2 separate regions of the Homo sapiens genome follow, and region 1 is linked to region 2. Evidence: fine-mapped expression QTL. A gene starts in region 2. The other region holds a variant in brackets. All regions are shown on one strand. Distances are between the middles of the regions. Region 1 overlaps AKT1 (AKT serine/threonine kinase 1). Region 2 holds the start of GPR132 (G protein-coupled receptor 132).

What was found. PIP is the estimated chance that this variant, and not a neighbour inherited with it, causes the effect.
Region 1: its variant is fine-mapped to the expression of GPR132 in sun-exposed skin (GTEx, PIP 0.96).

Annotation. Positions count from the first base shown.
Region 1 is chr14:104,785,634-104,790,003 of GRCh38, forward strand. All of the region lies in intron 3 of AKT1 (AKT serine/threonine kinase 1), which reads right to left. Among named protein-coding and RNA genes, the nearest start is that of AKT1, 7.9 kb to the right of the region's middle. The variant C/T (reference allele first, on the strand shown) is at 1,983.
Region 2 is chr14:105,063,050-105,067,419 of GRCh38, forward strand. GPR132 (G protein-coupled receptor 132) reads right to left here and starts at 2,381. Exons shown (of 4, transcript NM_013345.4): 1 at 2,330-2,381. RefSeq lists enhancers at 600-659, 860-959, 1,070-1,209, 2,887-3,404, 3,080-3,249 and 1 more.

The DNA of each region.
Region 1 (4,370 bases), 280 kb before region 2:
GGGGAGGTGACCCTCAGAGGCAGATCATGACCAGAGAGACCCCAGGTCCTGCCGCCAAGGCAGGGGTTGTAACTTGACACAAACTGCAAATTCTTCACCTCCTTCCGCTCCACCATGGAGCAGGCCTCAGCCCGACACACACACCCCGGGAGGAACATGGTGCGGGCAGGCGGCACCACCATGACCCCGTCCACCTCGCTGAGGCACAGCCGGAGGCGCTGGGGCCTCTCTTCCTGCCACTCCAGGGAAGCACCTGGGTCTCAGCTTTCCATTCTCCTGGGGCTCTACTGGGTGGGGTACTGGGCCTCCCTGGTGCTGCCCCTGACAGACCACCTGGGCCTGGATGTCCTCCCCCACAGGCACTGCCCGTCACCCACCCCTCGGGCCGGCAAAGGCACCCCACCTGCCACACACCCATCCATCGCAGAGCCCAGCACATCCCAAGACCCTGTCCCTGTCCCTGTCCCCCACCTCATTTTTGGTCTGCCCCAAACAAGCCCCACCCATGTCATGGCCCACCCTGCCTACTCAGGACCCCTGCAGATGAGGCTGCAGCCCCTCCCTGGCGCCTCCTACTCTGCCCCCGCCCACTCTCCCCATAACTTGCAGCAGGCTTTGCCAAGTGCCCTCCACCCAGTGGGTTCCCAGGGCCCTCACCCTCGCTCCCTGCGTGGGAGGAAGCTGGGCATGGGGACAGCACACAGTGCCTGCTGCGAGGGAGGGCTGGCCACAGTGTCCCACGTGTAGACACTGCCCTCGGGAAAGGAAGTGGGCACGGGCACAGGCTCCTTCCGGGGCTCGGCCGGGGGCACGCAGCCATGCCCACAGCCCCTCCCTCCTCCCGTCTCTCTTGGGCAGGGCCCCTGGCGGTTGAAGGGCTCCAGTGCTGGCCTCTCAATCCCTGACACCCCAGGAAAAGTGCCCTGCATTGCTGGGGGAACTGGAACCAGGCAGTAGGGACCTCGTCCTCCACACCGACCATGGGAAGCACCCGCCACAGAGGGGCCTTCCATCTCCCCACCATCTTGTTTCTGCCCCAACTTGGAGCCACGCCTGGGGCAGGAGGGCCCCCAGAGCACGGCCAGCTGTGGAGGGTGCTCCTTCTGATCCCCCGGCCTGCTGGGACATTGTGGCCCTGACCCCCGTGGCCTCACCCCACACCTCACCAAGCTTGTGCAGCTCAGCGTCTCCGCGCCCTACACCTGGCTGCTGTGCCCCTGGCCCCAGTCTGTGGGGAGGCCAGCCAGACCCTGGCCAGCCGAAGGGCCTCTCTGCATTCTCCAGGCCCAGGGAGCAGCCACCTCCCCGCCAGGCCTGCCCAGGGGGTGTCTCCACCCCTGAGCTGGACAACCAGCTGAGGGCCTGGGCAGGTGGGCCCGCCAGGTTACAGGGTATGGGTGGGGTCTGCAGTCACCGGGCCCGCCTGGGGGGTGTGTGAGCCCAAACACAGCGCCCCAAGGATCCCACCCCAAAGCCCGCAACATTGGCAGCAGAGTCACCCATGAACTCCCAACCCCCTCAATTCCAACGTTTCTGAAATCCAAACCTATCATTCCTTAAGGTTCAAGGAAAACACACCTAAAGGCGGCATGGCAGGGAAGGGAACTCCCGTTGGAGATGAGGAAGTAAGGGGCCTAGGGTTCGCCTAACAGCCCCATCCTGGCCTGGAGCCCCAGGGCCCTCTGCCAACCTGCCCGGGGCCCCAGCGCTGGGCTGGGGGAACCTTCTCCTGAGGCCATGGGACTAGGCACAATGGTCCAAGCAGACAGAAGCAGCAGGCAGCTGCCCACCCAGGGTGGCCTGGGGAGCAGGCCCAGAGCCACAGCCACAGCCACCAGTCTCAGCTATGGGAGGGCCCGAGGGCAGGGTGCTGGCCCCAAGCCGGGCCGGGTGTGCCCAGGCAGAGGGGACGCCAGCGGGGGCCGCGCCAGTTCCCTCCGCTCAGCCTCGTGCAGGACTTCTAGGAACCCGGCCTGATGCAA[C/T]CCGGCCAGGCTTCTCCTGAGAGTGGAAGGTGTACGGGGGTCTAGGCCCCAGCACAGGAATCATTCCACCCACATTCTGTCCACTCTCCTGGGCCTCAGTTTCCCTTCCCGGAGTCCAGCCCCCCACAGGGCATCCCTGCCCAGAGAGGGCCAGTGACCAAGAAACACACAGGAAGAAGAGCTGTCCACTCAGGAGCCACCAGGCGTGGGGGCTAAGGTCCAGGGCTGGGGCCAGCAGTGACCCCTCACCCCCACTCAAGGCCACCTCGGCTTCCTCTTTTGTTGTTTTTGAAGTGAGAACTCAACAAGCTCCCAAAACAGGAACCTCCCTGATGCTGGCGGCCTCCACCACAGCCATGCCATGACCTCCACCAGCCTGTGCCTCCTGCCCCTCTCCCGGGTAGGCCCAGGGCTGTTGGGACCCCCACTCTCTGCCCAGCCCTCCCACCAGGAGCCAGCACACTTGCCTCCCCATCTCTGTCCCTGGCCTGCCCACGGGGGCCGTTCCAGACCCTCAACGCTCCCCCAGGGGAGGCAGAGCTTGGCACTAACCAGCCCAGGGCCCGCGGGTCTCACACTGAAGCCACCTAGACGCAGCCTGGGGTTGACCCTCACCTGACAGCCTGGGAAAAACTGAGGCCCAGGAGGCACAGGCAGCCCTGGCCTGGAGCCCAAAGGTTCCCACAGGCTGAGGGGAGAGTCTGCGGGCTCCCTCCCTCAGGGTCCTGCTGGGCCCCTCATCCTGGCGGGGTAATGAGCAGCCTCCATCTGCACACAAACAATTAGCCCTGCGGGGCCCTCCGCAGCAGCTGCTCTCTGGAGTGGGCTCAGAGTCCCCCACAGACCTCTTCTCAAGGGTGTTTACTCAGCAAAGCCAAGGCCTCCTCCAGGATGAAGGGGAGTGGCCTGTACCCTCTGAGGTCCCCCACCTCACGCAGGGACCCCAGGACCAGCTGGATGGCTGAGCAGCAGCTGGGGATGCAGTGAGGTTCTATGTCGCTCACCAAAGCGAAGTAACACACTGGGGTAGGAACCACTCTCTCCCTGCCTCAGTGCCCCCCCGCAGGGACAGCCAGTGCCAGGACTTCAAGGCGGGGAGAGGGGGTGGGAAGGAGGCCCAGCCTAGGCACCTGCTTGGGGTCAGAGACCAGCCTCCATACTCCCCACCGGGACGCCTGGGGCTAACTCAGCAGGAGTGGTGAGGGGGCTGCCCTGAGGCCTGGACTGGGGGGTCTATGCCAGGCATGGGCCCGGGGTAGGGCATGGCAAGGACTCAGATGTCCGGAGACTGGACCCTCCGTGAGCCGCATGGACACACGGTCCCGTGTCACCCGGGCCCGGCCAGGCACCCAGATCCGTGGCTTGGACACGCTGCCCACACACTCAGGAGCGTCTGCCGCGTAACCCACGCGCCCCAGGCAGCTTCCCTCGACCCCCGCCCACTCGGCCTTGGCCTGCTGGGTCACAGCCTGCCGAAGGCAGCCAGGCCTGCAGCTCTTCCCCGGCCCCTCTCGGACAGCGACCAGCCTGAGGGAGTCCAGGTGGTGCCCCTGCGGCCGGCACCCACTCCTGGCCTAGGCCCAGCCCTTTCTCGAGAGCCCAGAGCACCTCATCCTGGGTCCCAGCATCCCGGCCACCCGCCTCGGCCCTCTCCTGACCCACTTGGTCCAGCCATGTGGACGGGGGGACGCTCAGGAAGACAGCCGCGAGTGGACAAAAACAGGCTCCAGGCCGGGGCTGCACCAGGGCAGCTCTCCACGGGGCTAGGCTGCAGCCAGGCTGGTGCACGGCCCCAGGAGTACTGGGGCAAGCGGGCAAGGTGAGCAAGCTGTTTGGGGAAAGTACCTCAAAAGAGCCACACAGCCTCTGGCCAAAGCCTGGCACGGAGCTATCAAAGGAAGGAAAACTGCAGGCTGGAGGCCGAGTTCAGCCAGACCTGCGCCCTGGCCCAGGATTGATTTTTTAAAATTGTCAGCCTTCAAAAATCAGGAGACTTCACACAACAGAACAAATCTTTGAAAATGCAAACGTCTGAGCAACACTGAGCCCACCAGACCACCAATGGCCAGAGCTGAGCTGGGCTGCTTATCCAGTGAGACAGCCGAAACAGGAGGGGACATCTGGCCCCCTGTCCCTATAGGCCCCACCAGCCTCCTCACTAGCTCCTGCCCTTAACAGCCTAAGCTCACCCTCCAGGAACCATCTCCCTGTTAGATGTGCAGACCCAGAGGCCTCGCCTGGGTCCAGCCACAGGTCCACACAGGCCTGCAGCCGGAACTCCTGTGTCCCCATGCCCGGTCCCTTCTGTCCCTGAAGCTCCTCTGACTCAGAGCACACACATCAGAACAACAGAAAGCAGCCTGGGCCACTTCCCAGAGATGACGCTCA
Region 2 (4,370 bases):
TGGGACTACAGGCACCTGCTGCCATGCCCAGTTAATTTTTGTACTTTTATTCTTAGAGACGAGGTTTCCCTATGTTACCCAGGCTGGTCTCGAGCTCCTGGGCTCAAGAAATCCGCCGGCCTCGGTCTCCGAAAGTGCTGGGAATACAGGCGTGAGCCACCATGCCCGGCCAATGAATCCATTTTCCAGATTAGAGAAGCACCACATGTTCCTGGGATGGACATTTCAATAACAGGATCTAGCATGACCTCACCCAGCCACTGTCCCTGGAGCTCTCTGGCCTGCAAGTTGCTGTGCTCCTCCAGTCTTTTAAAATCTATTTTGTAACTTTTTTTTTTTTTTTAGGCTGAGTTTCTCTCTCGTTGCCCAGGCTGGAGTGCAATAGCACGATCTTGGCTCACTGCAACCTCTGCCTCCCGGGTTCAAGTGATTCTCCTGCCTCAGCCTCTGAAGTAGCTGGGATTAGCAGGCGCCTGCCACCATGCCCGGCTAATTTTTTGTATTTTTAGTAGAGAAGGGGTTTCGCCATATTGGTCAGGCTGGTCTTGAACTCCTGACCTCAGGTGATCCGCCCGCCTCGGCCTCCTAAAGTGCTGGGATTACAGGTGTGAGCCACCACGCCCAGCCTGTTTTGTAACTTATGATGGAACTTTTCAGACAGACACAAAAGGACAGAGAAGGAGCCCTGGCCCCTGCCATGTGCAGGGAGCAGTTCCTCATTCCAGCCCATTTGTCAAAAACAGCTCCTCAGGCTGCTGAGGTCTGTCTTGTGGACTATCTGTAATTTCTTTCTTTCTTTTTTTTTTTGAGACAGAGTTTCGCTCTCGTTGCCCAGGCTGGAGTGCAATGGCACGATCTCGGCTCACCACAACCTCCACCTCCTGGGTTCAAGTGAGTCTCCTGCCTCAGCCTCCCAAGTAAATGGGATTACAGGCGTGTGCCACCACGCCCGGCTAATTTTGTATTTTTAGTAGAGACAGGGTTTCACCATATTGGTTACGCTGGTCTCGAACTCCTGACCTCAGGTGATCCACCTGCCTTGGCCTCCCAAAGTGCTGGGATTACAGGCGTAAGCCACCGCACCTGGCTGGATTGCCTGTAATTTCTAAGCTGTTTCACGGTTGCTGGCCATTCCTAGCCATTTCCGTCTTTTACTCCCACCTGCTTTGGCACCAGGCAAACCTATGACCTCTTTTCTGCCGTCACGTTTGAGACAAACCCTAGGGAGGGAAATGTGGAGTCACCAGCTCCAACCTCCCTGCTCCACCACACCCATCCAAAGCCCATTGTCAACTTTCTTATTTTTCCCAATTTGATAGTGTTGCCCAGGCTAGAGTGCAATGGCGCGATCTCGGCTCACTGCAAGCTCCGCCTCTCAGGTTCAAGCGATTCTCCTGCCTCGGCCTCCCAAGTAGCTGGGATTACAGACGTGTGCCAACACGCCCGGCTAATTTTTGTATTTTTAGTAGAGACAGGGTATCACCATGTTGGTCAGGCTGGTCTCAAACTCCTGACCTCAAGTGATCCGCCCACCTCGGCCTCCCAAAGTGCTGGGATTACAGGCATGAACCACCGTGCCCAGCCCCTATCCTCATCTTCTTCCAGGAGCCTCTGCTCTCCCACCTCGGCCTGGCCAATCTCCTGAAATATCATTTTGTGCTCAGCCCAACTGGCCAGTCTTCAGTGGTCAGTCCCAGTCCCTTGCAGTGGTACAGACCCACGTCATGCACTTGACAGAAGGTATTGGGCCCCCCGCCCCGCTGTGCCTGGTGCGCCGAACGCCACTCCAAAGGCCGGTGACCTGCCCAGCTCCAGGATCTTGTCACGTGACTGGGCCAACTGCCACTCACCGCAGCACAGCCCCCACTGCCCTGCTTTTCCCTCTGTGTAACCCCACAAGCAGCACAGGCCCCACAGAGAGAAGCCCAGCCCTTCAGTGCCCCCCGACCAATCACGGAAGCAAGTGGCCAAGGAGAGATTCCAGGGACAAAGTCCAGCCCCCTGACTCACCCCCATCTGGACCAGTAGCCAGGGAAGCCTTTTCCAGAAGAAAGTCTCCAGGAAGGTGGCGGTGACAAAGATACAATGGAAACTGTTGTCCCTCTCCCCCAAATCCTCCGGCCCCATCACATCTGTGGTCACTGGGGGTCCTGGGTTCTCTCGGGAGGGACCCCAGATTAAGAACCCTCAACAAAGCCTCCATCTTTACCAACAAATCACCTTTGCCTTCAGATCCCCCTCTGCCCGCCTCCAGCTCCCAGCCCCCAGCCCCATCCCAGAGCCTGGCCCCCCAGGCCCACTCCCCAGCACGCAGAGCCCAGCGACTTACCCAGGGCCCCGCCTGCGTGGCTAGCCTCGCACCCCTCCCTGCAGTCCTAGCTGAGGTTTCAGGAAGTAGCAGGGGTCTAATTATGTTCTGTCTAGAACTCCCCTAACCACAAACAGGGCTGAGCTAGGGGTTAGCCAACCGGGCTGGGGTATCTTACTGGTGATGACAGCATGGCCTCGTCACCTTCCTGAGGGAGGGAGTGGCAGGAAACCCCAGTCTTACCTCTTTTAGCAATAGCAGCACTCAGAGCCAGGCTCCACTCACTCAGGAGCTCCCAGGCAGGTGCTGGGGCCTGGCGCGGCACAGCGGCTGTCCGTGTGTCCCCAGACAGGCAAGGCAGGACAGGGGTCCTGGAAAGGCTGCAGGGAGGGGTCCTGGAAAGACAAAATCCAGCTCCTCTGCAGCTCAGGCCTGGTGTTGCCCACTCTCGGGCCAGGCAAGCACGGAGCAGGGTGACTTCCCAGAGGCTGTGTCCTCCCAGGAGTCCCTGTCCGGGGTGCCAGGAGTAGAGAGGCTGAGTGCGCCCACTGCAGCCCCGGGACCAGGATGGCACCTGCATGTCCTGGAAGGCTCGGCACAGCCACTGCACACAAGCACCCTCCCCTCCCCGCCTCCCTCTTCCTACATGGGGCAGGGCCGTGTGGGAAGAACAGCCTACTGCACACTCCACATTCCTCCCCCAGCCCTACCTCAACCCCTCCTGCATCCAGAACCAAGCCTGGCCTGGCCCAGGAGCCCTGCGGGTGGGCTTCTCTGTGAGGGGCCCTGTGGGAACTGGAGGGTGGGCAGGCAGGGTTGCCTGGGACAGTCCCCCTCACTGTGGGGCTTCCGGCCATGATGGGCCCAGTTTCCTTGGACAAAGCCAGCTGGCTGTGGACAGCACCTACAACTCCACTCACCTCCAGGCTGCTTCTGAGTTTCAGGGCACAGACCCACCCTGGTGCCCACTCCCGAGCCTGCCAAGCTCCATCCAAGCCAGGCTCTTTCAGCAGTGGGGACAGGGCCGGGCTGAGGGAAGGAGCTGGGGACCACAAATGTCTCCAAGCGACACTGCCCAGCACCGCAGCAGGGACGGTCACTGAGCGAAGAAGCCGCCATCCTGGGTGGGTACACCCACGGCCAGGAGAGGCCGGTGGAGGCCGAGCCCCCAGTCTACACTTTCCCCCAGACACGTGGATCACAGCTGCCCCCTGCTGCAGGGCCGCATGGCTGGAGGCTGCCTCCGAACAGCGATTTCAGAGGGTTTTGTGTGGGTGGCAGTGGAGTCCCTGGAAAGCTGGGCTTTCCCATTGCCCTGGCGGGGAGGCGCAGGTCTCAGGGCAGGGCCTACCTTGGCTTTCCAGAAACACTTGCCCAGGGGACAGTGATCCTCTAGGGGATCTGGTGCAAACACACGCCTCCACAGGCCACTGCTCATGGGGTCACTGGCCTCCCGGGTCTTTGGGCCAGGGCAGCCCCACCCTCGGAGCAGCAATAGACGAAGCCCACATCAGGCCAGTGGGGGTGATGGCCAGGGACAGCTGTGGGTTCCTGTCGCTGGCCCCAGCAGCCTCCTAGGACCTGCCCCGTCCTGCGCCCCACTGGGTGGTCTGTCACGTTCACCAGGCCTCCTCTGCGCCCCCGGTGAGGGGTCCAGGAGTGACATGCGGACCCGGCTCAGGCCATTGTCACCCTCCATGCCTTCTGGCCTTTGCCAGGCAGTCCGGGAATAGCCGATTCAAGTGAGGTCAGTTGAATCCTCTCTTTGGGTCCTTCACTGGGGTCTGGGAAAGGAAAGTTGGGTCCCTTGGGTGGCAGGAGCTGTGGGTATGAACTGGGGGGTTGGCAGCCGTGTACCGGCTCCCCTGCCCCTGCCAGGTGGAGAAGCCAGGCTGGGGTGGAGGGCAGGCAGGAGCCTGGGAGTCCAAACACTGACAGCCTGGGGGTGTGGACTGGCCCTGCCTATTCCCACCGGGCCTTCGGGACCAGTGGAGGCTGCCCCGGGCTGTGCGGCACCTGGGGTGTTGTCTCTGAGAAGCCCGTCAGGGAGATGGCTCTCCCT